Linked DNA regions of Homo sapiens. The protein of the gene in region 3 purifies or fractionates together with the protein of the main gene of each other region. This does not show direct contact. Each region holds a gene or a part of one and is shown on either strand. Other genes may lie near its edges. The genes, in order: SARNP, RBM28, STK36 and MKI67.

The links.
Region 1: the proteins of STK36 (region 3) and SARNP purify together in Homo sapiens (affinity purification with mass spectrometry; one large-scale study listed by BioGRID and IntAct). This does not show direct contact.
Region 2: the proteins of STK36 (region 3) and RBM28 purify together in Homo sapiens (affinity purification with mass spectrometry; one large-scale study listed by BioGRID and IntAct). This does not show direct contact.
Region 4: the proteins of STK36 (region 3) and MKI67 purify together in Homo sapiens (affinity purification with mass spectrometry; one large-scale study listed by BioGRID and IntAct). This does not show direct contact.

The regions. Positions count from the first base shown.
Region 1 is NC_000012.12:55,757,174-55,764,763, forward strand, and holds the end of SARNP (SAP domain-containing ribonucleoprotein), read right to left. Parts: intron 3,468-7,590; coding exon 3,378-3,467; intron 381-3,377; coding exon 339-380; 3' UTR 97-338; downstream 1-96. UniProt on the Homo sapiens protein: Binds both single-stranded and double-stranded DNA with higher affinity for the single-stranded form. Specifically binds to scaffold/matrix attachment region DNA. Also binds single-stranded RNA. Enhances RNA unwinding activity of DDX39A.
Region 2 is NC_000007.14:128,296,393-128,303,982, reverse strand, and holds the end of RBM28 (RNA-binding protein 28), read left to right. Parts: 3' UTR 1-6,298; downstream 6,299-7,590. UniProt on the Homo sapiens protein: Nucleolar component of the spliceosomal ribonucleoprotein complexes.
Region 3 is NC_000002.12:218,687,779-218,695,368, reverse strand, and holds part of STK36 (serine/threonine-protein kinase 36), read right to left. Parts: intron 6,673-7,590; coding exon 6,493-6,672; intron 5,511-6,492; coding exon 5,413-5,510; intron 4,920-5,412; coding exon 4,814-4,919; intron 3,227-4,813; coding exon 3,076-3,226; intron 2,787-3,075; coding exon 2,659-2,786; intron 2,130-2,658; coding exon 2,025-2,129; intron 1,647-2,024; coding exon 1,548-1,646; intron 1,475-1,547; coding exon 1,386-1,474; intron 1,106-1,385; coding exon 1,042-1,105; intron 845-1,041; coding exon 734-844; intron 1-733.
Region 4 is NC_000010.11:128,118,309-128,125,898, forward strand, and holds part of MKI67 (proliferation marker protein Ki-67), read right to left. Parts: intron 7,449-7,590; 5' UTR 7,360-7,448; coding exon 7,268-7,359; intron 4,862-7,267; coding exon 4,783-4,861; intron 4,689-4,782; coding exon 4,573-4,688; intron 1,012-4,572; coding exon 945-1,011; intron 1-944. UniProt on the Homo sapiens protein: Protein that associates with the surface of mitotic chromosomes and acts both as a chromosome repellent during early mitosis and chromosome attractant during late mitosis.

The DNA.
Region 1 (7,590 bases), on a different chromosome or scaffold from region 3:
TATGGCCAATTCTCTATAATATTTGCCCCTGAAGCTCCCCTTATCTGGTCTAATCTAGCTCCAATAAATCAAAGGAGCACCTAATAAAACACATTGTTCTCTTTTCTATTTTTTTTTATTAACAAGCAACATAATCAAAAACAAAAACACAACAACCTTAAAGCTGAAACAGCAATAAGTCAAACTGCTGCCGCAGTTCATGGATGTACCTGGGGTACATGCTCCCTCATTGCGAGGCAGGACGTAGGCACATGACTGTGCATTTAGGCATATATGTGACCAAGAAGAAGGAGAGAAATGGAAAACACTGGAGAACAGAAAGTATCAGGAACTTTTCATCAGGCAATCCCAAAGCGCTCTGCTCTTTTCCTCTTCTTTGCCTGTAAAGAAGAAGCAAGAAGAAAAAAATTAGACTGAAGACAATAGTTGCCTGGGTTCCTGGCTGCTTTAATCCAAACTCACATGAACTGTCACAAGGCCCGAGAAGGAAGGATGGCCCAGACTTGAGCTTGGTAGCTAGAGATTTCATTCCTGAATCTCTCCAATCCTTCCAGTTATCCAGTAGGAGCTGGAAAGTTTAATGGGTAAGGAGGGTGAGGAGTAAAGAAGATTACTGGGGGTGAGGGACAGAGAGAAGAACAGTGGTAGAAAATGGGAAGATTCCTGAAGCAAAGAGAGCCACTCAGCCTGAGATCAAGCTAGCCTGGAAACAATGGGCTCTTAACAGGCTGGGAAAAGTCTTCCAGTCAATGGGGAGACGGAAGATTTCAGAGGATAAAGGATTAACCAATGCTATTCATAGAGGTGAAGGAGATGCCCTTCTGAGCAGTCAGGCCCAGACAGTAGCTATTCCTTAGGACTCCAACCCACAAAAAAGGCATATAAATCTTTGATGCCAACAGAACGAATAGGGAGTGAGTGGTATGTGGGTGAGTCCCTATCATAGATCTCTTAAAGGAGACAGCAACACTGGAGAGGACACAAAATGGTGAGGGAAGACTTCTGGTTCTGGAAGTGACTCACAGAACAGCACCAAGTCCTTCATGGGCACTCCCAACCACTGCCCCTAGCAGAATACAAACTCCTCTGGCTTTTTTCTAGTGAAGAGTGTTAGCTGATCTGACTCTAAAATTTTCAGGGTTTAATTTACAAGACTGACTCTGATACTTATTCATGAAGAAGCTTTTCATAGGCCAGGCATGGTGGCTCACGCCTGTAATCTCAGGACTTTGAGAGGCCGAGGCAGGCAGATCACGAGGTCAGGAGTTCAAGACCAGCCTGACCAACACGGTAAAACCCCGTCTCTACTAAAAACACAAAAATTAGCCGGGTGTGGTGGCACACGCCTGTAATCCCAGGTACTCAGGAGGCTGAAGCACAATAATCACTTGAACCCGGGAGGCGGAGGTTGCAGTGAGCTGAGATCGCACCACTGCACTCCAGCCTGGACGACAGAGCGAGACTCCATCTCAAAAAAAAAAAGAAGCTTTTCATAAAGCATCATCCTGTTGGTACTGTCCTCAAGATAGTAAGTTCTTGCCAGATATGGCTGTTTAAGGCCTTCCACCATGATTGTAAGCTTCCTGAGGCCTCCCCAGAAGCCAAGCAGATGCCAGCACCATGCTTCCCATAAAGCCTGCAGAAATGTAAGCCAATTAAGCCTCTTTTCTTCATAAGTTACCTAGTCTCATGTATTTCTCCTTTACAGCAATGCAAGAACAGCCTAATATACTTTTTTTTTTTTTTTTTTTGAGACAGTCTTGCTCTGTTGCCCAGGCTGGAGTACAGGGGTGCCATCTGGGCTCACTACAACCTCCACCTCAGCCTCTGGAGTAGCTGGGACTACAGGCACATGCCACCACACTCAGCTAATTTATTTTAAACTTTTAGTAGAGATGAGGTCTCACTATGTTGCCCAGGCTAGTCTCCAACTCCTGACCTCAAGTGATCCTCCCACACTGCTCTCCTAAAGTGCTGGGATTCTTTCATTTTGAGAAACTATCTGTAAACAAAGTGACAAGAACAGGAAGTCTCATTTGAGTCCACTGTCCTTTTCCAGAAATGAGTTAGGCACAACCAGTTCTTATTAAATATTTTAAAACTATCCCTTTTTATACAGAATCGTTTCACTCTTTAAATAAAACTTTGAGGTAGGTTTTATTATCTCCACTTCCTAGATGATGAAACCTGAGGCTCAGGAAGTACTGTAACTTATTAATACTAAGTGGCAAAGCCTTTTTCTTTTCTTTTTTTTTTTTTTGAGAGCAAGTCTCACTCTGTAGCCCATGTTGGAGTGGCGTGATCTTGGCTCACCGCAACCTCTGCCTCCCGGTTTCAAGAGATTCTCATGCCTCGGTCTCCAGAGTAGCTGGGATTACAGGCACATGCCACTGCACCTGGCTAATTTTTTTAAATAAGTAAATAAATAAATAAATAAATGTATTTTTAGTAGAGATGGGGTTTCACCATGTTGGCCAGGCTGATCTTGAACTCTCGACCTCAGGTAATCTGCCTGCCTCAGCCTCCCAAAGTGCTAGGATTATAGGCGTAAGCCACCATGCCCGGCCGCCTTTTTCTTTTTTGAGACAGGGTCTCACTCTATTGCCCAGGCTGGAGTACAGTGGCGCCATCCAGGTTCACTGCAGCCTTGACCTCCTGGGCTTAAGTGATCCTCCCATCTCAGCCTCCTGAGTAGCTGGGACTATAGGTGTGTGCCACCACGCCTAGCTAATTTTTGTATTTTTAGTAGAGACAGGGTTTCTCCATGTTGCCCAGGCTGGTCTCAAACTCCTGGGCTCAAGAGATCTGCCTGCCTCAGCCTCCCAAAGTGCTAAGATTACAGGCATGAGCCACCACACCCAGCCCAGAGCCAATTTTAGAATCCAAGCCTACCTGATTCCAAACGTTATACTCTTTGCCACTAGTCTAACAGACTCTAACACTGAATTAAGTATATTGATGGAATTCAGTGTTGCCACTTCACCCAGAAAAAAAGTTATCAAGAAAAAAGCAAAATATTTGGACACTTAAGAAGTAGGTGGGTGGCCAGACATAGTGGCTCATGCCTATAATAATCCCAGCAATTTGGGAGCTGAGTGCAGAGGATCGCTTGAGCCCAGGAGTTTGAGACCAGCCTGAGCAACAGAATGAGACCCCATCTCTACTTAAATAAATAAATAATTAAGAAGTAGGTGGGAAAACAGTGTTTCTCTACTCAGTTTATTCACTCTCACTTCCTGGGCAACAGAGACCCCAACTCGACTTAAATAAGTAAATAAATAAATAAATAAATAGGTGGGGAAACAATATTTCTCCATTCAGTTTATTCACTCTAATTTCCCTTCAAGGTCTATGAAGCGTTCCAGGTATATTTTTACCTCTGTATCCTCTGTGGTTCCAGTTCCAGCTGAACTTGTGACAATCCCAAATCGCTCCTTCCTCTTTTTCAGTTTCTCATCATCTTCAGACTGTTCAAGGACAAAGGAAAGAGTTGAAACAAACTAGCCTCCATTCACCAAGTAAATGGGAATGAAATGATAACTTATTGGTCACAAGGTGCTAACCAACCCTGTGCCAAGAACTAAGGATCACATAAAGAGATAAGATACATAAGAAACTGAATAAGCTAGCATATACTATGTTGTACCTAGAATGACTAAAAACTTAATTTTAGGCAGGGCCTCAATACTCATAAGACAAGTAGGGTAAAGAAACAGTAAGAGGCCGGGCACGGTGACTCACACCTGTAATCCTAGCACTTTGGGAGGCTGAGGCGGGTGGATCAGGCAGTCAGGAGTTCAACACCAGCCTGGCCAAGATGATGAAACCCCATTTCGACTAAAAATACAAAAAAATTAGCTGGGTGTGGTGGCGGGCGCCTGTAATCCCAGCTACTAGGGAGGCTGAGGCAGAGAACTGCTTGAACCTGGGAGGCAGAAGTTGCACTGAGCTGAGATTGCACCACTGCACTCCAGCCTGGGTGACAGAGTGAGACTCTGTCTCAAAAAAAAAAATAATAAATAAAATAAACAGTAAGAAACACCCATAAAACAAATTTCTATGCTCAAGCAATTCTGGCAGTTGAGGGATATGGAAAACTGAGGTTTCACTGAATAACACCCAAAGTTACACCTAGTAACACCTAGTTAGAAGGTACCCAAACTACTTGTTGAACAATGCTTACACGTTACCAAGGAAAGAAAGGGGAAGAGGGCCAGAGTGGTATTTCTGAAAAACTTATTTGCTTGAAACACCCAGCAAAGCCATAGAAGGCTCTGAATAGTTTGAAATGATTCTTAAAACAGGTGAATCAAGGTGACAGCCATGGTCAACTCTCTAAGAGAAATGCTGTGGACATTTTCCAAGCATCTGTGAAACTCATGATGTCTGCCTGGGAATGAGAGAATATTTCAGTTTACCATGAGTTGGAGCTCGCCATTATTCTAGGTGTTTTGTATCATTCATGTCCAACACTGCTCAGTATAAGAGTCTATATATTTTCCTATCAGAACCTAAACCCTACCATTTTATTTAGCCCACTTTAACAGTTATTTTCTCTTTCTCCACCTCCCCCTCACATCTTATCACCAGTCATCAGAAGCTCAGCCTCAGGATTAGAAAACATCTGAAATCAGGTAGGCTCCTCGGGTGTCTTTCCCCCAGGAAGGACTTTCTAAAATTTGGCACATATATAAAAAGATCTCATTCTCTCATAATCTCAAGAGACCCTCTACTCCCTAGAGATGTACCCATCCTCACTAAAGAGCAGGACAGTTTCTTTGACTTTATTTACGTTGTTAACCCAACAGAAGGACAGATAAGCAAGAGTTCAAACAAGGGCACAGTGGCTCACACCTGTAATTCCAGCACTTTGGGAGGCCAAGGCAAGCAGATCACTTGAGGTCAGGAGTTGGAGACCAGCCTGGCCAACATGGTGAAACCCATCTTTACTAAACATACAAAAATTGGCCAAGCATGGCCGCAGGTGCCTGTAATCCCAGCTACTTGGGAGGCTGAGGCAGGAAAATAGCTTGAACCCAGGAGGCGGAGGTTACAGTGAGCTGAGATCATGCCATTGCAGTCCAGCCTGGGTAGACAGAGTGGGACTCCGTCTCCAAAGAGTTCAAACAAACTTTTTTTTTTTTTTTTTTGAGACAGAGTCTTACTTCGTTACCCAGGCTGGAGTGCAGTGGCACAATCTCAGCTCACTGCAACCTGTGCCTCCCAAGTAGCTGGACTACAGGCATGTGCCACCATGCCCGGCCAATTTTGTATTTTTAGTAGAGACGGGGTTTCTCCATGTTGGTCAGGCTGGTCTCGAACTCCCAACCTCAGGTGATCCGCCCACCTTGGCCTCCCAAAGTGCTGGGATTACAGGTGTGAGCCACTGCGCCTGGCCTCAAACAAACTTTTAAAGAATGTCTGTGTGGTGCTTCTGAGCTGGATTTGTTTTTAAATCCCAAGGAAATTATAGTCCTACAGTCTATAGGCAGGCTGTGTCTCTGGGTGTCCCAAAACTACAAGGTCAAAAGCAAAGGTAACAAAAAGACCTACAGAAATATACAGCAATTTTTCAATGCCTCTACTCTCAACCCCAACCAAGGAGTTGTCTTTGTCCCTGTGGCCACAGCAGCCACCTGTACAAATCAAAAGCAGGGCAGCTATCCAGCTTTCTGTGCTCAATTTAACTAGTCCACCTGTCTGAACACAGCAGGCAGGAGTACTGTCTTGGTCTTTAACTCTTTCAGCTTGAGAAAGATGTTCATTTTCTCCCTTTTGCTGCACCTGCTTTCTAGTGAGTAGGAAGAGACCTAAGAAAGAATGATGGTTATGAAGCAATTAAGAATCCTATACAAGTTATCATTTAATCACAGTTTATTACTAGAATAAACTACTGCCTACACAGTTTTTCTGCCTTTCTCATTATGACCACCAGCAAATCCATAGCGGGTACCTCATTAATGTACTCTGAACTATTGTAAAAACATTAAGCCAGGTTCAAAGAAAAACATAAGTATTCTTGTCCTTAATAATAATAAATTAAAATAATAACATTATAGCCATGAACATCTGAGTGCTTAGTATATGCCAGGTACTGTGTGCAGTTCTTTACACATGCAATATCTCATTTACTACTTTTTTTTTTTTTTTTCCCCAGAGACAGAGTCTCGCTCTGTCGCCCAGGCTGGAGTGCAGTGGTGCCATCTTGGCTCAATGCAGTCTCCACCTTCCAGGTTCAAGGGATTCTCCCGCCTCAGCCTCCTGAGTAGCTGGGACTACATGCGCACGCCACCACACCTAATTTTTGTATTTTTAGTAGAGATGGGGTTTCGCCACGTTAGCCAAACTGGTCTCGAACTCCTGACCTCAGGTGATCCGCCCACTTCGCCTTCCAAAGTGTTGGGATTACAGGCGTGAGCCACTGCATCCAGGCTCATTTACTACTTTATTTTAATTTTTGCAGAGAGGGGGATCTCGCTATGTTTCCCAGGCTAGTCTTGAACTCCTGGGCTCAATCAATCCTCTTGCCTCAGCCTCCCAAAGTGCTGGGATTACAGGTGTGAGCCACTGTACCTGGCATCATTTACTTCTTATAATAATCCTATGGAGTAGGCACAGCAATTAAATTCATTTCATAGATAGGAAAATTTAGTCTTGGAGAGATTAAGTGACTCACCCAAAATTTCACAAATAATACGAGGATTGGAATCCAGGACATTTTACTCAGGAATCCACTTTCTTAGCCTTACCACCTCCTCAAGGTATCTCACTTAAGTATTTCTTTGGAAGAACAGTAGGACAATTAAGTGCTTAACTCCCAAGGAGGAAGGATCACTAGAACCCTTAGCTAAAAAAACTTGTAAATTTTAATCACATCACTCAAATAATCAGGTCAAGAATACTAGGACCCCTTCTTCTAACGTACCATATACCTACAATTTATAAGTAACAGTATCTAGGAAAAGGGCTCCAGTTAGTAATCTTGTACTAATGTTTTTCTCAGCTAAATCTGGTTCTAATTTTGCTTAATTGGCTATTCCATTTGTTGAGATGTAATAAAAGAATAAGGGGCTGGGAGCAGTGGCTCACATCTGTAATCCCACCACTTTGAGAAAATCCCAGGAAGGATCTTCTAAAATCCTGAGGTCGGGAGTTCGAGACCAGCCTGACCAACATGGAGAAACCCCGCCTCTACTAAAAATACAAAATTAGCTGGGCGTGGTGGCGCATGCCTGTAATCCCAGCTACTTGGGAGGCTGAGGCAGGAGAAGCGCTTGAACCCGGGAGGTGGAGGTTGCGGTGAGCCGAGATCTCGCCATTGCACTCCAGCCTGGGCAACAAGAGCGAAACTCCATTTCAAAAAAAAAAAAAAAAAGAATAAGGCTGGGCGCAGTGGCTCACACCGGTAATCCCAGCACTTTGGGAGGCCGAGGCAGGCAAATCACAAGGTCAAGATATAGAGACTATCCTGGCCAACATGGTGAAACCCCATCTCTATTAAAAAAAATACAAAAATTAGCTGGGTGTGGTGGCGAGTAGTAGTCCCTACTCGGGAAGCTGAGGCAGGAGAATCACTTGAACCCGAGAGGC
Region 2 (7,590 bases), on a different chromosome or scaffold from region 3:
AGTGTTCTGCCCAGCCTTCCCGACTCTCTTTCTTATCCTTCCCTCGAAACTATTCTGTTCCTTATGCTTAAATACTTTCCAGTCATGGGAGCTTTGCTGTAGGCCCTTGGCCTTTCATGGGTAGCTTCTGATACGTGCATGGGTGTTAATAGAGGAAGTTGACCCCGCCTGGGAAGAATAATGACCTATGGAGACCTGGCCCTTTCTCTTATGGCTTCTTAAAGTGACAGCTGTTATGGGAAGTTCAGGCATCTTGACGTGGAAAATACATTGTTCATTTTCTTTTAATTTTTTTTCCCCTAACCACTATACCAACAGGGATGGAAAGATACTTTTAGTTGGAAGGAATTTGGAGCCCTTAAACGACACCTGGAGCAGCTGCCTGTGGGTGGGGCTTTGCACAGTCTCATCCTGGCAAGGGAGGACGAGCCAAGGACCAGTTTTGCAGAATTGTCATCATGAGGCCCTGGTTGTGTGCTGGGCTGGGGCATTGCCCCTTTCCAGGAGGCCAGGCCAAGCAGGGCTGCCTGGCTTAGGCTTTTGCATCTTCAGCATCCTTTCACGTCTCTTATCTCAGGTGACCTTCACAGCAAGCCTGGTGAAGGTTATTGAGAAGCAGATGTCACCACCTAGTCTTAGAGCTGATGAAAGCAGGATGTGGGGAAGTCCAGACCCTCTCCTGAAACCCCTTGGCCACCTGAGCTAGTACCAGAGCAAGGTCCCACTTGGCCGTGAGTGCTGTCTCTAGGGCCTATTTCAGGAACTGTCTCATATATAAGAACAGAACACTTTTTGCCAGCTATACCAAATGTTTTTGGGATTAAAAAAATAGTTTCTCTTTTCCAAATTAGGTGGTAAGAAAAGGAAGGGCATTTTCATTCTCACATTCTTTGAATGTTGAAACGTTTTAAAAACTTCCAGCTGGGCTTGGTGGCTCATACCTGTAACCCCAGCACTATGGGAGGCTGAGATGGGAGGATCCCTTGAGGCCAGGAGTTCAGGACCAGCCTGGGCAACATAGTAAAACTGCCCAAAATTTGAAAATTAGCCTTGTGTGGTGGTGTGCACTGTAGTCCCAGCTGCTCGGGAGGCTGGGGCAGGAGGATTGCTTGAGCCCAGGAGTTTGAGGCTGCAGTGAGCTATGGTTGTACCACTGTACTCCAACCTGGGCAACAGCGTGATACCCTGTCTAAAAAAATAATAAAAATAAAAAAGGATTAAACCCTTTACTTGACCAGCTTCTTTTCCTGCTACCCCTGGACTAACTAATCATTACATATTTTTGTAGTTGTTTTTTCTTTCTTTCTCTCTCCTGATCTACCACAAGCCAAATGTACTCATATACATACTAATAGGTGAAAAAAGAGAGTCTGAGGAGTGAATACATTTATTTTGTGATTTCCTAGGCAGTAGCTAGGACTCCCTTAGAGGTTGCTAATAGGGAAAGGGTGCGCTGGCTCTACTCAGTTTTATAACTGCTTTTCCCCGAATTCTGCAGACATCTTCATTCCCCTGGAGGTCAGATAATGGCTATTTATTTTCCATAGCCATGAAAATCTCTGGGGAGAGCTGTGGCAATTTGACGAGAGCTATTAAAGGGACATTAGGATTGAAGTAGCTGCTCAGGCAGTCACATACCCTCGATCCTCATCTGCAGGGACAGCTGCCAGAACGAATGAGCCCAGCTCTCCTGCCCGCAGCCAGCCGCGTGTGGGTGCAACTGGCGACCAGCCACTGGAGTGAGTCCCAGGGAAGGGGACAGGTTCTTAGAATCACCATTTGTCTCTGCTCTCTCCCTCTCTGCAATAGGACGGGCACTCTAAACTCACATAATGGTTAATAACAACAGCTAACAATTACTGAGCACCTACTATGTGTCAGGCATGTGCTGAGGATGATCGCATCAAGTAAAATGCCTGTCTCTGGCCCAGAGGCCCAGAAGAAGAGAAAGAAGGGAAATCTGTAGGAGGCAAACAGTCCCTTACCCCTCTGCTTGCAGACCTTCAGTGACAGGACACTCCCTGTTTGCTCCAAGCACCTCTTGCATTTTCAGAGCTTGGGACACAGATTCAGGGACTTGCACTTCGATAGAGTGCCTCAGGACCCCTCGTCGGAGCCATGGAAAGTCAGTTTCTGGGCCCATCCTTCCTGTGGGGGTGTCTTTCCTTCTCTTGGCCACCCCCTAGGAATCCCTAGTAGAGAGCAGGCACTTAATAGCCAGTGCAGTGAGAGTGGTCTGTGATGTCTGGGCCAGGGCAAGGCCCGCCAAGTGGGCTCCCAGGTGCCTGCCACAGAGCCTCTGGGGTTTGAGGCCCTCAGTGACCCTTAGGCAATAGCTGGGTCTTAATGAGGGATCATGTCCTTTCCTGGGTAGTCGTGGGTAGAGGGGTGTGAACTGATCTGAGCTACTCTAGGAAGGCTAGAGACAAAAGCAGGAACCAAGAGAAGGGCTGAGGCTCCTTCCAAGAGACTCCAAGTCCTGAGGGCAAGAAGCGGAGAGCCTTGTGCCAGGCCAGGTGTTGCCCCTGTCAGTGCTGACGGACAGGCAAGAGAGGCTGCTGATGCTGCAGCCCTGTGAAGCTGAGACTCACCCTTTGCCCACTTTCACAGCCATCTCCCCAGGAGGCTGTGGTGACACAGGTAAAAGCCAAAGGACAGAGGATGACCCTGGACAAATCACTCAGACCCTCCAGTCCTCTTTGCTCATTTATAAAATACAGGCAAAAAGCCCCCTAGTACTAAATGAAATAGCCACTGTAAAAGAGCACGGGAGATAGGGTCTGTGATGTCTTTTGTCCCCAGTGTCCTGAGTGAATTCACAGGAAAGGGGAGAAAGACTGGTTGCCCACTTCCAGGGTGATTGGCTAATTTCCACTTCTTTCCTGCTAGGGATGGGAACACACGCCAGAATCCTGGGAAGGCTACATGTCCTCAGGTGGTGCTGGCCCCACCTCCAGCCTCTGCAGGGATACCAGGATATGAGCCAGGCTCTGCTCCCGGGGTGACCCATCCTCCTCAGTGCCCCTTCTTTCCTCACAACTGCAGGCAGAAGGAGAGTGTGTCCTGTCTCTCTGAGGAGCTGGCTGTGCCATTTAAGCAGGCCCTAGGGGTGGAGCGCTGTGAAGAGATGGCACCCAGGTCCCTGTTCCTCCTTTTCCAGAGCAAACACTGCTAAGGGATCATGACAGTCCCTGCATCTGGCCCAGACTGGGCCTTGGGAGGCTTTTGACATCAATCCATGCAACCGCACCCAACAATTGGAGTCAGCATGGGAGGTGAGACCCACTTGCCAATTTTGCTCTCAGGGAACAGCCCTCTTTACTAAAACATAGCACAGTATTGATAACAGTTGTTTCCAGGCATCGTAGAAAGCGTTTAGTGGGCATTAACGTCTTTGATCCTCACCACAAGGTCAGGGGTTGGATGATGTTAGCATGCTCATTGAAGGATCAGAAAAGTCAGGCTCAAGATAGCTCGCCCTTCATTCAGCCAGCCGGTGTTAACTGAATATTAACTGTGCACCCGTCTGTGCCAGTGTTCCCCCAGGAGCTGCAGAGGGTCCTGAGCAGAGTGAGCTCAAGCCACTTGGGAGCTCACATTCCAGCTATCAGTGCTGATTCATCTCAAATGTTTGATCCACGCTGGGTTCTAACCCTTCCCTGCTCAGAGCCCTCAGAGTCCAGGTCAGGTAGAACCCAGAACAGAGCCTCTGGCAGGAAGGAGCTTGCATGGTCCTCAGGCTTCATGTCCAGAGATCATTCCTCCACTTTGAGCTTCTTTGTGAAAACCAATCACAAAGAGAGGAGGGGTGAAATGTGCCAAAGCCTCTGCCAGGGTTGTAGCAAGGAAACCTGGGCTTCTAGGGAAAGTTGAGAAAGGGCCTATATTAGTCAGGAGGGCTACTGTAAGAGAGTACCACAGGCTGGGTGGCTTAAACAACAGAAATTTATCACCTTACGGTTCTGGAGGCTAGAAGTCTAAAATCAAAGTGTTGGCAAGGTTGGTTCCTTCATGAGGAATTTCTTGGCGTTGCCTGGCATATAGATGCATCACTGCAGTCTCTGCCTCGTTGTCACATGGCCATCTTCTCCCTGTGTCTATAGGTCTATGTCCAAATTTCCCTCTTCTTATAAAGACACCAGTCATATTGGCTTAGGCCCAGCCCAATGATTTCATCTTAATTTGATTACATCTCTGCTATGGTTTGAATGTGTCCCTTCCAAAATTCAGGTTATTGCCAATGTGATAGTATTGAGATGGGGTCCTTAAAGAAGTAATTAGGCCATGAGGGTGCCTCTCTCTGAAGGGAGGCTCATTGGATTGTATCAGTGTAACATAATTTACATAACCAGTTCTTTATGTGATGGAAATCCCATTCAACGGTTTCCAACCTTTGCTATTACAAACTGCTGTGAAGAGAAACATATGTCATTATACTAATCAGGTGCTGTTGTTGTTTTTATAATGCATTATCCTGGAGAGACTGCCCCTCCCAGGGCTAGCTACTTTGGGGAGAGAGTAAACAACTTGGTCGAGCGTGCCTTTCGTATGCAAACCAGTCAATCCAGAGCCCACACCCCCAGTCACCTCCTTTATCAAACTCTGACACAGCAAGCCAATATTCCCCCTGCCCTAAATCACTCCAGGGCCAGGCATGGGACAACTAGGGACAATCCCTATAGCCAGGGCCTGCCAAAGTTATACAGATTAGCCAATCCTAAGCCTGCTTCCCTGCCTTGCCTTGCCTTTCTGCTGGAAACTACATTAAAGGCGCTGGATCGTGCTTTTCCCTCACCCCCTCTGCTTCTTGGCTGACCCAAGTTCTTCCTGTGTGGCCCTGCAAGGCGTGACACACCTCTCCTCCTGGGAACTGCATAACAAACTCTTCTTGCAGAGATAGTTTTCTCTGTGTCTGTCATCTTACCATACCTGATGAAAACAAATATGGGTACATTTTTTTTTTTTTTTGAGAGAGAGGGTCTCACTCTGTCTCCCAGGCTGGAGTGCAGTGGTGTAATCACAGGTCACTGCAGCCTCGACCTCCTGGGCTCTAGTGATCCTCCCACGTCAGCCTTGCAAATAGCTGAGACTACAGGCACACACCACCATGCCTAGCTAATTTTTGGTGTATTTGTTATAGAGACAGAGTTTCGCTATGTTGCCCAGGCTGGTCTCAAACTCCTGAGCTCAAGTGATCCACCCACCTTAGCCTCTCAAAGTGCTGGGATTATAAGTGTGAGCCACAGCATCCAGCCATGGGTACATTTTAAAGCAGGCGTTTTGTTCATGTGCAGCCCTTGTTCTCAGTTAAGGGGAAAATGAGTGATCCTTTGCTTGGCTCTGAAGGAGCAGTGTTTTATATGTAAAGAATATATTCTGTATATTTAAAGAAGAGCAATGGGGGGCATTTGAAAATAAATCCGTTCATTTTTTTCTGATTGTAAAAATAATATATGCTCAGTAAAGAGAATCTGAAAAATACAGAAGTATTGGGGGAACCCACCCCCAATATTTCAACATAGGTTCTTTCTATTTTCCATAAGTGTCGGCCGACTGAGAAATAAAGAGAAATAGTACAAAGAGAGGAATTTTAACAGCTGGGCTGCCGGGGGTGACGTCGCATATCAGTAGGACTGTGATGCCCACCTGAGCCTCAAACCAGCAAGTTTTTTATTAAGGGTTTCAAAAGGGGAGGGGGTGTAAAACAGGGAGTAGGTACAAAGATCACATGCTTCAAAGGGCAAAAGCAGAACAAAGATCACATGCTTCTGAGGAAACAAGACAAAAGGCAAAACAGAACTACTGATAAGGGTCTATGTTCAACTGTGCGCGTATTGTCTTTTTTTTTTATTATTTAAGTTTTAGGGTACATGTGCACACTGTGCAGGTTAGTTACATATGTATACATGTGACATGCTGGTCGCTGCACCCACTAACTCGTCATCTAGCATTAGGTATATCTCCCAATGCTATCCCTCCCCCCTCCCCCCACCCCTCAATAGTCCCCAGAGTGTGATGTTCCCCTTCCTGTGTCCATGTGTTCTCATTGTTCAATTCCCACCTATGAGTGAGAATATGCGGTGTTTGGTTTTTTGTTCTTGCGATAGTTTACTGAGAATGATGATTTTCAATTTCATCCGTGTCCCTACAAAGGACATGAACTCATCATTTTTTATGGCTGCATATGTGTATATGTGCCACATTTTCTTAATCCAGTCTATCATTGTTGGACATTTGGGTTGGTTCCAAGTCTTTGCTATTGTGAATAGTGCCGCAATAAACATACGTGTGTGTGTGTCTTTATAGCAGCATGATTTATAGTCCTTTGGGTATATACCCAGTAATGGGATGGCTGGGTCAAATGGTATTTCTAGTTCTAGATCCCTGAGGAATCGCCACACTGACTTCCACAATGGTTGAACTAGTTTACAGTCCCACCAACAGTGTAAAAGTGTTCCTATTTCTCCACATCCTCTCCAGCACCTGTTGTTTCCTGACTTTTTAATGATTGCCATTCTAACTGGTGTGAGATGGTATCTCATTGTGGTTTTGATTTGCATTTCTCTGATGGCCAGTGATGGTGAGCATTTTTTCATGTGTTTTTTGGCTGCCTAAATGTCTTCTTTTGAGAAGTGTCTGTTCATGTCCTTCGCCCACTTTTTGATGGGGTTGTTTGTTTTTTCTTGTAAATTTGTTTGAGTTCATTGTGGATTCTGGATATTAGCCCTTTGTCAGATGAGTAGGTTGCGAAAATTTTCTCCCATTTTGTGGGTTGCCTGTTCACTCTGATGGTAGTTTCTTTTGCTGTGCAGAAGCTTTTTAGTTTAATTAGATCCCATTTGTCAATTTTGTCTTTTGTTGCCATTGCTTTTGGTGTTTTAGACATGAAGTCCTTGCCCGTGCCTATGTCCTGAATGGTAATGCCTAGGTTTTCTTCTAGGGTTTTTATGGTTTTAGGTCTAACGTTTAAGTGTTTAATCCATCTTGAATTGATTTTTGTATAAGGTGTAAGGAAGGGATCCAGTTTCAGCTTTCTACATATGGCTAGCCAGTTTTCCCAGCACCATTTATTAAATAGGGAATCCTTTCCCCATTGCTTGTTTTTCTCAGGTTTGTCAAAGATCAGATAGTTGTAGATATGCGGCGTTATTTCTGAGGGCTCTGTTCTGTTCCATTGATCTGTATCTCTGTTTTGGTACCAGTACCATGCTGTCTTGGTTACTGTAGCCTTGTAGTATAGTTTGAAGTCAGGTAGTGTGATGCCTCCAGCTTTGTTCTTTTGGCTTAGGATTGACTTGGCAATGCGGGCTCTTTTTTGGTTCCATATGAACTTTAAAGTAGTTTTTTCCAATTCTGTGAAGAAAGTCATTGGTAGCTTGATGGGGATGACATTGAATCTATAAATTACCTTGGGCAGGATGGCCATTTTCACAATATTGATTCTTCCTACCCATGAGCATGGAATGTTCTTCCATTTGTTTGTATCCTCTTTTATTTCATTGAGCAGTGGTTTGTAGTTCTCCTTGAAGAGGTCCTTCACGTCCCTTGTAAGGTGGATTCCTAGGTATTTTATTCTCTTTGAAGCAATTG
Region 3 (7,590 bases):
CTGTAATCCCAGCTACTCGGGAGGCTGAGGCAGGAGAATCGCTTGAACCCAGGAGGCAGAGGTTGCGGTGAGCCGAGATCGCGCCATGGCACTCCAGCCTGGACAAGAGTGAAACTCCATCTCAAAAAAAAAAAAAAAAAAAAAAAGGGATGACAATAATTTGATTATAAAGTCTATCCTTCTTTTTACAAAATGAAGGAAAGATGAGTTCCAAAGGGTCTAAAAATGAAAGGAAGAAAAGTCCTGGGAAAGGAGAAAGCAGAAAGAAGGCTACATAATGGACTGAGTTCCTGAAGAATTCACAGGATGTCAGCCACCTTTTCCATCTGTTAAGAAGAACAAGTGGGGAAAGCAGAGTGGAAGCTGCAGTCAGAGGTGAAATTATGCATTAGGAAGGACTCTGCCAAGAGCATGAGCTTCTGGAGGAGGAGAACGAAGCAGGCAGGGTTCTCACACTACTCAGAAAACTCAGGTTAGTCACCCTTCCTCTTCCCTTCCCTCCCTCACTCTCTAGAAGCTCTGCATATTAAAAAGAAATCTAAAGTCCAGATCAATCTGGGCTCAGAGGGGCCTATCATCCGGCGACAAATCTAGAAAAGGAAGGGCTCCTTGATTCCTTTTCCATTCCTCAGTTTACTCCAGGCTTGCTGGCATTTCAGTCTTTTCCCCTTGAATGCAGTCCTAGTGTCTGACTCAGAGAAAACATGTCTGTGCCCTCCCTGGGGGGCCTCACCTCTGCAGGGGCAGACAAGGCATGTGTGGCTGCAGCCATCCATTCCATGGGCTGGAGGTCAAAGGTCACCCCTTGCTGACCAAGCTGTCCCAATAGACAGGCTGCTGCACTCTGTGGGAGAGGTAAAAGAGGAGAAAGAATGTCCAAATCTAAATGGCATTCAGGACAGGCAGAGAGGATTTATGTCTCTGTCCTGGTCCAAAAGAATGCCTCCAGAAACAGATGCAAATTGGATAGTGACTCCCCCACTTCCACAAGGGGTAGATGCTAGGGTGAAAAGGGGAGGAGGGTGAAGGTTAAAAACTTACCACAAGAGAGACGACATGCGAATGGGTAAAGAGAGTAGCAACGTCACTGCCTAGCTTCTCCATTCTGGAATAAAGAGATACATCAAGGGATGCAGCAGTATTAAAGGAGGTTGGTAAGCGGCCTCCCCTCTCCCTTGCATGGTGTTCTTCACCTAGGCTGCATGTCTACCTCCAAGGCACAAAGTTGATGGGAGTCTAGGTCTGTTCTTTGTAGAGAAAGCTTCACGCTCTCTATCCCAATTCCTCCTAAGGATATGCTGTAGGGTACCATTCCCCATACTCTTTGTGAGGGTTAGCTATGTGGCTAGAAGACTTCTGTGGAGACACCCTACTTTATGACTTACCCACAAGGCAGGTTTTGGAGCCGAAAGACAAGAAGGGAGAGGAAGTAGAGTGTCACTTCAGTAGACTCTTCCCAATCTACTACTTTTACCTACAAAGGAAACCTAAGATATCAGAACAACCTCTGGCTGAGACAGTGGGGCTGCCAGGGGAAGCTGGCTTACCTTGCCCTGAATCAACATAAACAGGGATTCCAAGGCCAGGGGCTCCTGCCCCAGAAGACGGCACAGGCCCTCACTGACAAGGCAGCAGGAGTATAGAACCTGAGGGAGAAGGAAGGAGTCTGGCAGTGAGGCAGGGCAGGCCCCGGGCTCCAAGATTGAAGGCTCAGCGGAAACACCGGCCAGCCCCTCAAAAGATCTGGTACCCACACTTGGGAGTGTGAGAGAACCCCCTTCTGCCTCTTGCTATGAGATAGTGAGACAGGGACCCTTCTCGGTTCCGCTGAGGACTGGCTAACAGTGGGGTCCTCTCAGTTGAACAGATTTAAAAGCAGAAAGGAGTCTTCCAAGGGGGTGTCTCAAATGGTCTCTCTCAGTCTCTCTCTCTTTTAGTCCTCCTCTCTTGGTCTGTTTCTCTGCTTCTCTGTCTGCACTGGGAGTTAAAAATAAAGCTGTGATGCCAGGAGTTAAGAGGATTACCTTGAGAAGGTGCAGGCACAGGATGGGATGCTGCAGGCCAGAGATGAGGGATGGCCTGAGCTGGCTGCTGTCTTCAGTTAGCTGATTTGCCAAATGCCAACAGACCTATAGAGACATACCTGAAGGCTCAATCCTATCCACATGATTACAACCCTATTCCTCACATATGTCCAAAATGATCAGGACTCTCAGTCTCTTCCTAGTCACTCTTCCCACATTCACCAGAAACCTCAGACCCCATTCTATTCCCAGTCTTCATCACCAATAGAGAACCAAAAGTCATGGCCTAGTTTGGCCCCAGTGTAGCCAGGTACAGAGGAAAGGATTACCGACCAACAGGGATCAGGAAAGCTGAATTCTCAGCCCTTGAGGAAGCATCACTGGAGGCTTCAGATCAGCTGCCCCACCATCTGGGCAGTTTATCACTGTGCTCTCTCCCTCACCAACTGGCCATGGGCTCTGGGATTCTGGCTATATCATGTTCTACAAATGGCCCAGGGTGGGAGCATCTGTTTCTGGAAGTACTAAAGGAGGGGCTTAAAAGCTTGTTTTTCTGCCTTTCTGAAAAACTGGGGCTAGCCTCCTCAATTCCTCTGGCAGTAGGATGAGAGGAACAACCAATTGTAGCTCGGACCTGCTCCTTGGCATCCCAGCAGTCGGGCAGTCCCACAGGAGCAGTGCATATGGCTGCCAGGGCAGAGGAAATGGCTCCAGGTATATCCTCACTCTGCTCTCGCAGTGGCTGGCTCACTTGCGGGGCTCCTGTGGAGAAAAGCAAAGAGTAACTCCAAAGGCCTGAGGCTCTTGCCCTAGACAATAGCACCAGTACTCACCGACATGGCAGCAGGAGTAGGGAACCTAAGGGAGTGGGAAGAATGCAGGATGAGGTCTGTTTGTTTCCCTCAGATCCCCATTCATTCTCTCAGTTCACAGTTATTTATTGAGCACCTACTAAATGCCAGGTGCGATCTAGGTGATGGCAATAGAAAGAGCGGAGCCTGACCTATGCAACAAGTAAGTCAAGAGAACCTCCCTTCTCCACTCTGGTTACCTTGGGGAGTGTGGACAGGGAGCTGTGGAACTGTCAAGCCATGAAGGAGCCCATCCAAGACAACCTGCTGTGTCGTCAGCAAGCTGGAGTAAAAGGCTTTGGAGATGGCCCGGCTGTTCCCATCCATGGCTTCGCACAGGACAGTAAAGCACTAAAGGAGAGAAGTGCAGAGGTAGCATCAGGGCATCAGAAGACTGGGCTTAGTGTAAAAAACAAGAAAACCCTGAGGATCTGAGGAAAGAGGACAAAAACCAAAGCAAACACATGTCTAATTTTAAGCATTCTTCACACCAAAAATGCATTAGAACTGCTTTCATTCATGCTTCAAGGACAATAATTTTAGGTGTCAATCCTTCTATTCTCTGATCAGATGCTCCCTAGATGATGTTTCTCAAAGTATTTTTTATAGACTGTGAGTATAAGAATTCCTAGGGGTCAGGTGCAATGGCTCATGCCTGTAATCCCAACAGGGGATTGGGAGGCCGAGGCAGGTGGATCACTTGAGCTCAGAAGTTTGAGACCAACCTGGGCAACATGGCAAAACCCTGTCTCTACTAAAAATCCAAAAAAAATAGCCAGGTCTGGTGGTGTGCACCCATAGTCTCAGCTACTCAAGAGGCCGAGATGGGAGGATTGCTTGAGCCCGGAGGGTGGAGGTTGCAGTGAGTCAAGATCATGCCACTGCACTCTAGCCTGGGTGACAGAGAGACCCTGTCTCCAAAAAAAAAAGGAAAGAAAAGAAGAAATCCTAGGGATTCCTGGGTCCCTCCCAACTCAGTCCTACTGATTCAGAATTTCAGGAGGTAATTATTCCAAACTCCCCATTCTATTCATAGCATATGACATGAGAAGTGCTGGCCAATAGCATGAGTCACTGCTGGCCAAAATTTAGGTTAGACAGTAAAAGCTTTCTGACTTGAAAGGGTGAGGGATATTAAAACAGGATCTCAGACCAGGAAAGTCTGAGTGAATGCTAGCTAAAGGCAAGTAGTAGTCCAGATCTATGTTCCCAATTACCAGTTTTAACAATGACCAGGCAATTATTTACTTCCTTACAAATATATGTTCCTCTCTATCTCCTCTGAGGTTAGTCAGAACACAGCTATTTTCTCATTCAATCCTCCATTCTCCTGTCCCTTACCTCCAGGATCTAGGGAAAAGAACTGCATAGTCTACTAATCCTCAGGACAAACGAGGTTAGACAATACTAGATGATCTGCAAGTCTTTTCAAGAAGAAGTCGTTCTATTTGTGGTCCCCTGAAATATGCCAAACTGCTTAAAGCCTCTGGGCCTTTATATATGTTACTCTTTCTGTATAGAATTTCTACTTTGTGCCTCATTTACGTGGCAAACTGCGATGTATTCTTCAAATGCTAGCAGAGATGATTTCCTTCTTCGAGATTTCTTCTATGATACTCCAAATAGTGTTAAGTGCATCTTCTGCAGTGGTTAACTGCATCTTCTTCATAAAATACAGCAGTGCTCTTGTATTATATGCAAAGTTCTAATGTACTTTTCACTGTTGTCCTTAATCCCTTTACCTCTCCCCTATTAAATTATCCCTAGTCCCTTGAAGGCAGGCACTTTTTCTTACTCACATGGCATATGGCATGGTGGGAATTTAACAAATGTTTGTCATATTAACTTGATCTGACCCTACATAGTCATAAGAAAGGGGATGGGAGAAACACGGAGAATGATAGGAGACACAGAAATCTGGAAGTGGGAGCAGATTACCATAAGGCTGTCCCTCCGCAAAGTCTGCTCAGAGTCATCTGGTTGGGCCAGCAGTTTCCCCAACAGGTCCAGAAAAAGGTTGGCAGCCTCCTGAAACACCTGCAGGCTGGGGGTGGAAAATGAGCCCATGATTTCTTATCTCTCTACTAAAAGCCTGGATGTGGTGAATGGGTCAGTCCTGGGCAGGTAGGAGAATCTCTGCAAAGGGACACATCAGAATGTTCCTCCCTTCTCCCTTGCCACACACACACATACACCCTCCAAGCCCCTTCTTTGCCATTTTCTCTAGGTTATTCGCATATTTTTTTTCTTTCTTTCTTTCTTTAATCCAATTGGCTTCCTGGAATAGGTTATTCACATCTTGACCCTTCCATTTTAGGACCATGGTGACTGCTGACTCTTAGAAACTGTAAGTCTTGAGGCCAAGTTGGAGCTGTCTTAGGGTCCTTAAAAGGACTATGAGTGGCCACTCAGCTGATTCCTAAACCTGTAACAAATCACAGCTTCTTCATACTTGGCCTGTTCCTAAATGGGAAGGGCACTTGGGGTAGAAACAGAAGCCAAACTTGCCAACAATGCAAAAGCACTTCTTATCCTACCTGTCACTTGTCTGGCTCCTCTCCAGATTGAAGGTACAGGCAAAGTAGGCCTGAATCACAGCCATCAGGTCCTGTAAGAAGGTCCCATACCAAGATTGCTGCCCAGGAAAAGGAGAAGAGAGTAAGGGCAATGTGAAGGATGGAAACAAAGAATAGAAAAAACAGTAGAAAGGGTGTATAGAGACCCAGTCAAGTTGATCAAACAGAAAGGGACAGAAGAGAAGTATAGGCAGAGAGAGAGTTCTAGGGGTAACAGAGAATCTGCCAATGGGCTGTGAACAGCCTGGATTAAATGTGTCTTGTTTGGCCTGAATAGCATTTTGGAGTATAGGAGGTTCTATTTTTCAAAAATCTTTTTCTCTAAATTCCTTAAAATCACCCAAGATTAATACTCATCAACAAAGTGCAGCTTTCCAGCTGCCTCATCCTAGGCCCTATTAGGCATTTACACTGACTCTGAAACATTCCCCATCCTCTCAGTCCAGCTACCGTAGGACACAGCAGGGGGAAGTAGAGGTTTGGCCCCAAACACATTGAGTCTCTATCCCAGCTCTTCCACTTGTTATCTCTGTGACCATTTACAAATTAGTGACTGTGTATGAGTTACCTCTGAATTTTAGTACTCTGCTCTGTAAGATCAGGTCAATGAAGCCTAGGATCTAACATTTCAAAGCACAGCGCTCTAAATATTTAAAAATTACACATAAAAATTTGGGTTTCTACCTTTTCTTAGAAAACTAGAAGATCTGGCTAGTTTTCTCAGGCCCATATTTCCCTGTGGCAACAATGGGCTGGAGGCTGAGGAAAGGATGCCTCTACTCTATTTAGAGGAGGCATGTGAACTCTAGTTCATCATATTCCCCACAACTCATATAGTCACATGCATAGCCTACTTCATGGCAGACCTTATCTGCCTGGCCCCAGAAGGCATTAGAGTTTGCAATTAATAGTCTACTAACTAGAAAGAGGAGGAAAGAAAATAAAAGGCAGTCAGACCAAAGAGAGATGGCAATCTGAATGAGATAAATCCAAGAAAAAGAACCTCTGTAAGTCTTCAGAGGCTTCTGGCCTGGTGCTTACCTGCTGGAGGCTGTTGCTCTCCTGACTGTGCCTGAGTAGACTCAGCAGCAGCCCAGGAAGCCCTGCCTCCCGGCAGAAGGAATACAAGGCAACAGAATCACTGCAGCTGGAGAGAAGACTGCTCAGGACCCGGAATGCAGGCAGGATGTGGGAAGCACCCTCCAAGATGCCTTTCAGGATCTGGGTGACATGAGGGAAAGAGGCAACGATTGATATTTTCAGAGGTAAAAGAAGGAGAACTACACATACCAAGCATCCCCAAGGAGCTGGGAAAGCAGACCACATGCTTGCATTCCTTTCTTTGCAAGTCTAAAACACAGAGAAGGAAAGCAGGGAAATAGGGGAACTGTACCAGGGAAGAAGACAATAGATGGTCAGGTTACCTAACACAGAACACCAGTGACCAACGGATAGGGGCCTCTCCTCAGGATCTCTGTCAGACTAAGTGCCATTCCCATCTGCTCCCTCCCTTCTCCAGCCCTTCACCTTAAAAACAAAAAACACGTGCACCGCACATGCTTCTGAAAATTCAAAACAATGCATATAAAACAATATTATTTAACCACAGAAAGACAAAACAACATTATTCAACTCTAGATCAGGGTTGACAAACTATGGCTCACAGGTCAAATCCAGCCTAACATTTATTTGTATACAGCCTGCATGCTAAGGATAGTATTATATTTTTATTTATTTTTGCCCTTTATTTATTTTTCGAGACAGAGTTTCACTCTTGTCCTCCAGGCTGGAGTGTAATGGTGCAATCTTGGCTCACTGCAACCTCTCTGCCTCCTGGGTTCAAGTGATTCTCCTGCCTCAGCCTCCCAAGTAGCTGGGATTACAGGTGCCCACCACCACACCTAGCTAATTTTTGTATTTTTAGTAGAGATGGGATTTCACCATGTTGGCCAGGCTGGCCTCAAACTCCTGACCTCAAGTGATCCTCCCACCTCAGCCTCCCAAAGTGCTAGGATTACAGGCGTGAGCCACCATGCCTGGCCAGTATTGTATTTTTAAATGGTTATTCTTCAAAAGAAGAACATTTACACCAAGTATTTTATAATATTCCATTAGCTGTTCTAAATGTTGGCATCTGCT
Region 4 (7,590 bases), on a different chromosome or scaffold from region 3:
TTGCTTGAACCCAGGAGGCGGAGGTTGCAGTGAGCCAAGATCGCACCACTGCACTCCAGCCTGGGTGACGGAGTGAGACTCCGTCTCAGAAAAAAAAAAAAAAAAAAAGGCAGAAATGTTGAAATTCAAGAGTACCTACTGCTAATTTCAGGTGCACCTAAGATAACTCTCCTAAGCCAAGATATTCCAAGGAGCTCATCTGAAACTAGCTTTAGGAGCACTCTAAAATGTAGGAAAAATATGAATTCTCAGGGCTCATCCTAAGCCTAAATCCCACTAAATTTCCAAGCACATGCCGACAACTGTGTTTTAATAAGCTGTACAACTAAAATACCTCTTCCACACTGATATACTCAAACTATCTAAATTGCGAAGCACGTGTCGACAATTATGTTTTCATAAGCTGTACAATTGGAATACCTGTTCCACACTGATACACTCAAACTATAGGATTCTCTCACAAGACAAAGCACAGGATCCCTTTTCCTGTTTCATGGGTCGTCTATCTATCAAAATAGAGAAGCATCTTTGGCACTCATGATTTTCATAATGTGATTATTTCAGACACATAAAGACGGATGAGTACAATGACTGGGCGACAAAATGAGCCACCAGATAATGCAATTCCCAAATGTTAGCTCTACGTGTTGGGGTTATCCTAATCATGGGTTTGCAAAAAGCTCGCAACATGCTCTAATAGACTTTTTGGCTAAAAGTGTAAGACCAACTTAGTGCTCTGATTTTGAACAATAAAGAGGAAATATCATTTTAGATTATTTTAATACGTCTAAGTTCAACTCGTTTTTATACTTTAGTTACATTTTCCTACTATAACAGTAACCACCCTCTTTGTAACTGATTTCAAGTAAGAAATCATTAAAGCATACATAAATGATTTCATATCATCGAAACGAATCAGCCCAAACTTGGATATTTTCTATCACCTGTTCACGTATTTTTCTTGGAAATTCAGTTGACTTCCTTCCATTCTGAAGACTTTCATTTTCATACCTGCAGTTTATAGAACGACAAAGATCCTGATTAAAAATTTATACCCTGGGGCGGAAGTCTCCATATCCACTTAATGTCCAAGGATCAACGAACAAACTTTGGGTTTAGTTCAAGACATCACCTTATACAAAGAAATAAATTTAGAGTTAGAAAAGTGCTTTTACACTAAAAACTAGGATTAGTTGCATCGAGTTTGTTTTGAAATACCACTGTCAGAGGCTGGGGACCCAGATTAACTTCTGATCACTGACGAACAGCCCAGGTATGATTTGACAATATTACCAAGCACCTTCTATGACATAAGCTAATGCACATGAGAGCAAAGTCAAGTTTCTTCTAGTTTAAGTCCATGGAAATCATCGGATGGCTTGGAAGGCCAGCCAGGAAGCCTGTAGGTAACTGAATCTTTCTCACGTTGTGAAGTTACATACTTCAGGGTAAATAAAAAGCTACACTTACACTACAGGGTAACTACAAACCTATATTTTAGAACACTATGATCACTTCAGTTTCCCACACATTCAGTCTGTATCTGAACAAGACAGGTACATCTTAAGAAGATCACCTTTAGCAAGATACATAATTGTCCTGGCAAACCTCAGTGATCAAGTCATAGAAGCAATCCTTTATTTTGCATAATGAAAACTTTTGGCCTCAGTGAAATGACCTGATTTGAATTTATAGGCAACCTAAGTAAGATCTGAAGCAGTCACACATCTGATATTATTTCTCATGGTAGAGAGTTTGGAATCAAGTCTCTCTTTCTAAGATTCACTTTCAAATCTTTGTTGGATGTCTTTAATCATCTGAATTTATCTCAATTTGGATAATATCTTGTTTTGAAAAATAGTTCAGCCCTCCAATAAACATCAAAAGCTTCCTACCTATAGGCCGGGCGCAGTGGCTCATGCCTGTAATCTCAGCATTTTGGGAGGCTGAAGCAGGTGGATCACTTGAGACCAAGAGTTCAAGACCAGCCTGGCCATCATGGTGAAACGCCGTCTCTACTAAAAATTGCAAAAATTAGCCGGGTGTTGTGGCGCGTGCCTGTAATCCCAGCTACTTGGTAGGCTGAGGCATGAGAATCACTTGAACCCGGGAGGCGGAGGTTGCAGTGAGCCAAGATCACACCACTGCACTCCAGCCTGGGTGACAGAGCAAGACTCTGTCTCAAAAACAAACAAACAAACAAACAAAAAGAAAAAGAAAAAAAGAAAAACTTCCTACATAGAAGTCTGTATTCAATAAAAATACTCTTTAAAAATGAAGGCAAACTTCCCAGAAGCACAGTAAAAGAAATGACTAGGGAATTTAAGTGGTGCATTAAAAAACAGCTAATACAAATGAAGACAATAACAGAGATTCATTTAGCAGAATGGATTTTTAAATGACCCAACTAATACGTTGTCTACAAGAGACGCAATTTTGATTCAAAGACACAATCTTTTAAAATAAAAGCATGGGAAAAGATATACCATGCAAACAGCAAGCAGAGGGGAACTGGAGTACTGTACTAACATGAGACAAAATCATCTCAGACAAAAGTTATTCATAGAGAAAAAGGACATTTTATATAAGGATCAATCCAGCAAGAAGATATTCCAGTTAAACACAAGAGGTCACCTGACAACAGGTTCCAAGAGACAACTTAAACCATAACAATTATGAAAAGTTAAAATTAAGGGGGTGGAAAAGTTATACTACACAAGCACTCATCAAAAGGAAATTAGTTTAACCATACTCATCATCCAAAGGAAACATTAAGCAGAAAAGAAAGCACTACTAAAAACAGAGGACATCTCTAAATGACAGAGTTCCATGCACCAAGACATCATTCTAAGTTTGTACACCATAGTACAGCCTCAAAATATACAAAGCAAAAACTGATAGAGATAAAAACAAATCAATCAATCAATCCTCAGTAGGTGATTTGAACATATCTCTTAGAATAATAGTAGGGGAAAATTTACTAAGATTATAGATTTGAATCTAACGGGAGTGTGTGTATCTGTATATGTGTATATATATTACATATTATATATGTATATATTATATATTATATAATATAAATATATTGTATATATATTGTATATGTATTATATATACCATATAGTATATACTGTATACAGTATATACTATATGGTATATATAATATATATTATTATATTATATATTACTATATAACATATAGTATATACTATATAATATTATATATTATATTATAATTATATATGATTATATATAATATATTATAATTATATATTATATAAGTGATATATATAATAATTATATATTACATATATATGAGACACTGTAGAATACAGTTTTCAATTACACAAGGCAGATTAGTAAGATAATTAGCCATATCTGCTCATAAAGCAAACCTTGACACATTTCAAAGACTAGACATTAGTCAAATGTCCATCAAGAATGAATGAATTCTGTATAGTTATGTATATTATTGTATATATTAAACATTTTTTTTTCAGTGAAATACTTATGCCATGAGAAGGAACAAACTACAGAGATGTCCAACATGCTATGAATCTCACACACAGAAAAGCACAAGCCAGGCACAAATGTATACATTCTTGTATCACTGTTAAGGACTTTTATAAGAACAGACAAAACTATCGTGTTCAGAGATCCATGCTTAGGTAGTGAAACTCGAGACGTTTATGATATCCTAAAAGCCAAAACGGTGGTTTACTTGCTGAGGGAATGAAGTAGTGATTAGACAACAGCATTTTTAAAAAGCTTCTGGAAATGTTCTATATGAGCTGAGGATGTATTAGTCTGCTAGGGCCACCATAATAAAGTCCCACAGACTGAATGCCTTGAAAAACAGACATGCCCTTCTCAGTGCTGGAGGCTGGAAGTCCAAGAGCAAGGTGTCAGCTGGATTGGATTTCTCTGTGCCTCTCTCCTTGACTTGAAGATGGCTGCCTTCTTGCTGCCTCTTCTCATGGGCTTTCCTCTGTGCACGTGTTCCCTAATCTCCACTTATAATGACACCAATCATCAGATTAGGGCCCATACTAATAGCTCAAAAAGCCTTCATTGCCTTTTTAAATGCCCTCTTTCCAAATACAGTTACATCCTAAGGTACGAGGGGTTAGGAATTCAAAATATGAATTTCGGGAGAGCACAAATCAGTCCATAATAGGTGGTGATCAAAAGGGTGTTCACATGATAAATTGACCTGTCCATCTTGTTTTGTACCTTTTTCTCTGTGTATATTTTGCTTTAAAATAAAAAAGAATAGAAAAATCTCATGCAGTTTCAAAACACTTGGAAGAAAATAACAAACTCCTTTAGGACAAGGTCAACCTCCCTCTGCATAATTATTTGCACCCAAATCCTTGAATTCCATCACATTTTGTCCCAATTAGTCATCTTCCTAGATCCATATCCTTTTAAATTAAGATTAGTGTTGAGAATGAAAACCTGAAATACTTTGACATCCATGAACATTAAAGAAGAATGACAGTTGACTTTGACACTAGTTTATGGTTAATCAGAAGATGACATTTACTGTTAGACCAATCAGCTTTTACCTACCTGAAGGAACGATCAATAATAGTTATTACATCTCCATGTTTTAGCCGTACAGGCTCATCAATAACAGACCCATTTACTTGTGTTGGATTTGTGGAACTGAAATTATGTAATATTGCCTGCAAGTGAAAAGAAGGGGAAATATGTAACTAATGAACAGATTAAAAGTGAACTAAAAAGCTTTAAAAGTAGATCTTCAAAAAACCCACTCACCTCCTGCTCATGGATTTCAATTTTGCAATGTTGTTTTGACACAACAGGAAGCTGGATACGGATGTCACATTCAATACCCCTTCATGCAAAAGAAGAAGGTTTTTTTGGTTGCTGCAACTTTTTAAAAGATTACCTCAATTTCCCAAAATAAAACACAATTTGACTAGAATGTTTGATCTGTAAATATGACATAAAGGAGTAACAAACAAAATGGGCAATGTAAACGATCTTGCATTTTGCAAAGAACTTTTGGAAGTATTAAACATGTAACTATTAGATCTTTAAAACAGAGAGTATGTAAAAACAAGGGAAAACACTAGAACACAAATCGAATTACCTTTTATATGAAAAGCTATACTTAAAAGACACAAAGGAATACTTACATCAATTTTGGATAATGACTATTTTTAATACTCTGTGCTTTTTCAAAAACGTTTGTTTGTAATGTTAAATATGTTTAGAGGTTTAATCATCCCCAAATGTGCTTATTTGATGCTAGCACTTCTGTGCATCAGTTTCTTCATATACAATAAAGAAATTACATTAGAACCTACATCATGTGATGTTCAATTAAATGGTTGTACATGTCACTAATTTGCCTAGCACATAGTAAATGCTCATTATGGGTAAGCTTTTCATTGTTGTTTTAAAACTACACTGAATTTACTGACAGATTCAAGTCTCTAAACAATAAAAATACTAATTTGCAAGCGACACAAAAAAAAAATCTAAATTCAACTTGTTTTTCCACAGAAAGCTAACACCATGGCAAAGTAGCAGAAGAGACAATTCCTAAACCTATACAAACTAATAATCAGAAGAGTTTGTTAGTAGGTTCTTGGAGTCTTCAGTGTTCCTGTTCTAGCCTGTGATCTTAAAAATTTGAATAAACTATGCAATGGCCTGTCTGTTCTCCATCTGAACCTTTGGAGTCTAAGAATCTCTCTTCCTACCCAGGTCATGTGACCAAACACTTAGGAATTATTTCTAAATTATAAAATCTTGCATGAAGATATATTCAAGGAGTACTGTATAAAAAAGCAAAAGGACTGCCACTGGAGATGAAATGTTTATATTTTTCCTTTTCAAGAGAAAGGTATCTATGGAAAGTGAAAAGCTTCCTTAACCCCAATAAAATAATTTGATTTTAAGGTAACAGGACATCAGAGCAAAGGAAAGACTATCCCTTACAACTGAGAATTTGTTTGGCAGGAGGACGACTATAGATGGGTGTTTCTGAGCTTTGGCACTGTTGACATCTTGGGCCAGATGCTTCTGTATTGTGGGGGCTGCCCTGAGCCTGGTAGGATGCCCACCCTGACCTCTCCTCCGCGATGACAGCGCATGCCCCTGTCCTATATTGTGACATGGAAATTCAAATGAATCCTGGAAGGTTAGATGACCCTCCTGTGAGAACCACTGTTCTCAAGAGATTGCAAATCCATGGCTCCAGCCCATGTTTCTACTGACCCTTGCCAGAATGCTAGGTATTGATCACACCCCCTATGCCAGACACCATCCCTGGCCCTACACACGTGATTAGTAACAAGACAGTCTTTGCCTTTGGGGAGCTCAGCCTAGTGGGAGACAAACCCACAACTCACCCCTGAAGCTGTGGGGTTGGAAATACAAGTTTTCATGCAAGGCTTCCTCAGAGGTGACATTTCACCTGATGCCTGAATGATGGAAATCACACAAGCTTGAGGAAGGGGAGAACTTTCCCATTGTAAACTTCCAAGTGTGTAAGAAGTACCAAGGTGAACAAAGGCTTGGAATGCCTTAGGCGGGAGGAACAAGGTAGGGGATGGGGTTGGGAGGACAGGGTGAGGCCGGGATGGGGTTGGGAGGACAGGGTGAGGCCTGAATCCCGTGTGGTCTGGGAAATGACCACACGGGAAATGACCCCCCTTCTCAGGCCTCTAGTGGGACACATGTCAGAGGCTGATGGGGCACTGTCAGCAACTATACCTGTTATACAGGGACAGGGTTATTACCACCACCAAACAGGACAGCAATATAAGAGGAAACGTTCTCGAATTCCAGGCAGGAAGACTTTCTGTCCCATTTTCCTATTGCCACAAGGAGCCAAGAGACAAGTGTATGGCTTCCTTCCTTCATTCTCTGTGTCCCCAGTGGCCAGGGATGCCCACTGTGGAGGCACCCGGGGGCGCACAGTGTCTTCAGACGCCTGCCTGCAGCCAGTGACATATGAAGATCATCTACATCTTTCTTTACCGCAACATTAGCAAATCGATTTTTTTAATTGGCTTGATTTTTAAAACCACTTAAACATACAAACTAGCATCAAATTTATACTTACAAAACAAAAAAACACAACTATGTCAACTTAGTAACGAATGGGAGAAGCACCAAGGAAAAGTGACGGCAGGACCCAATCCTAGAGCGCGTTTCTGGACTTTATTCTGTGACTAAGGTATTTTCCTCTTTCTCAGCTAAAACGTCCGCGCGCGCCCGCGGGGCTCACCTTCCAAACAAGCAGGTGCTGAGGCTCAGGGGAAAGTGGGGACCGTCGACCCCGCTCCTTTTGATAGTAACCAGGCGTCTCGTGGGCCACATTTTCTAAACAGTAAGTTGAGTATAATCCGTAGGGGAAGGCCAGGTATAATCCGTAGGGGAAGGCCAGAAGCAAATTTACAACTCTTCCACTGCAAAAGAGGTGCGAGTTACTCTGATAGCAAAGGAGCTAAGAAGGGCCCCGTGCCCAATTCACCTATCCCCGGCCACAGAAGCGCACACCGCAGCTAGCTAGCGGGGACCCCAGGACGATCCGACCGCAGCCCCCGGCGC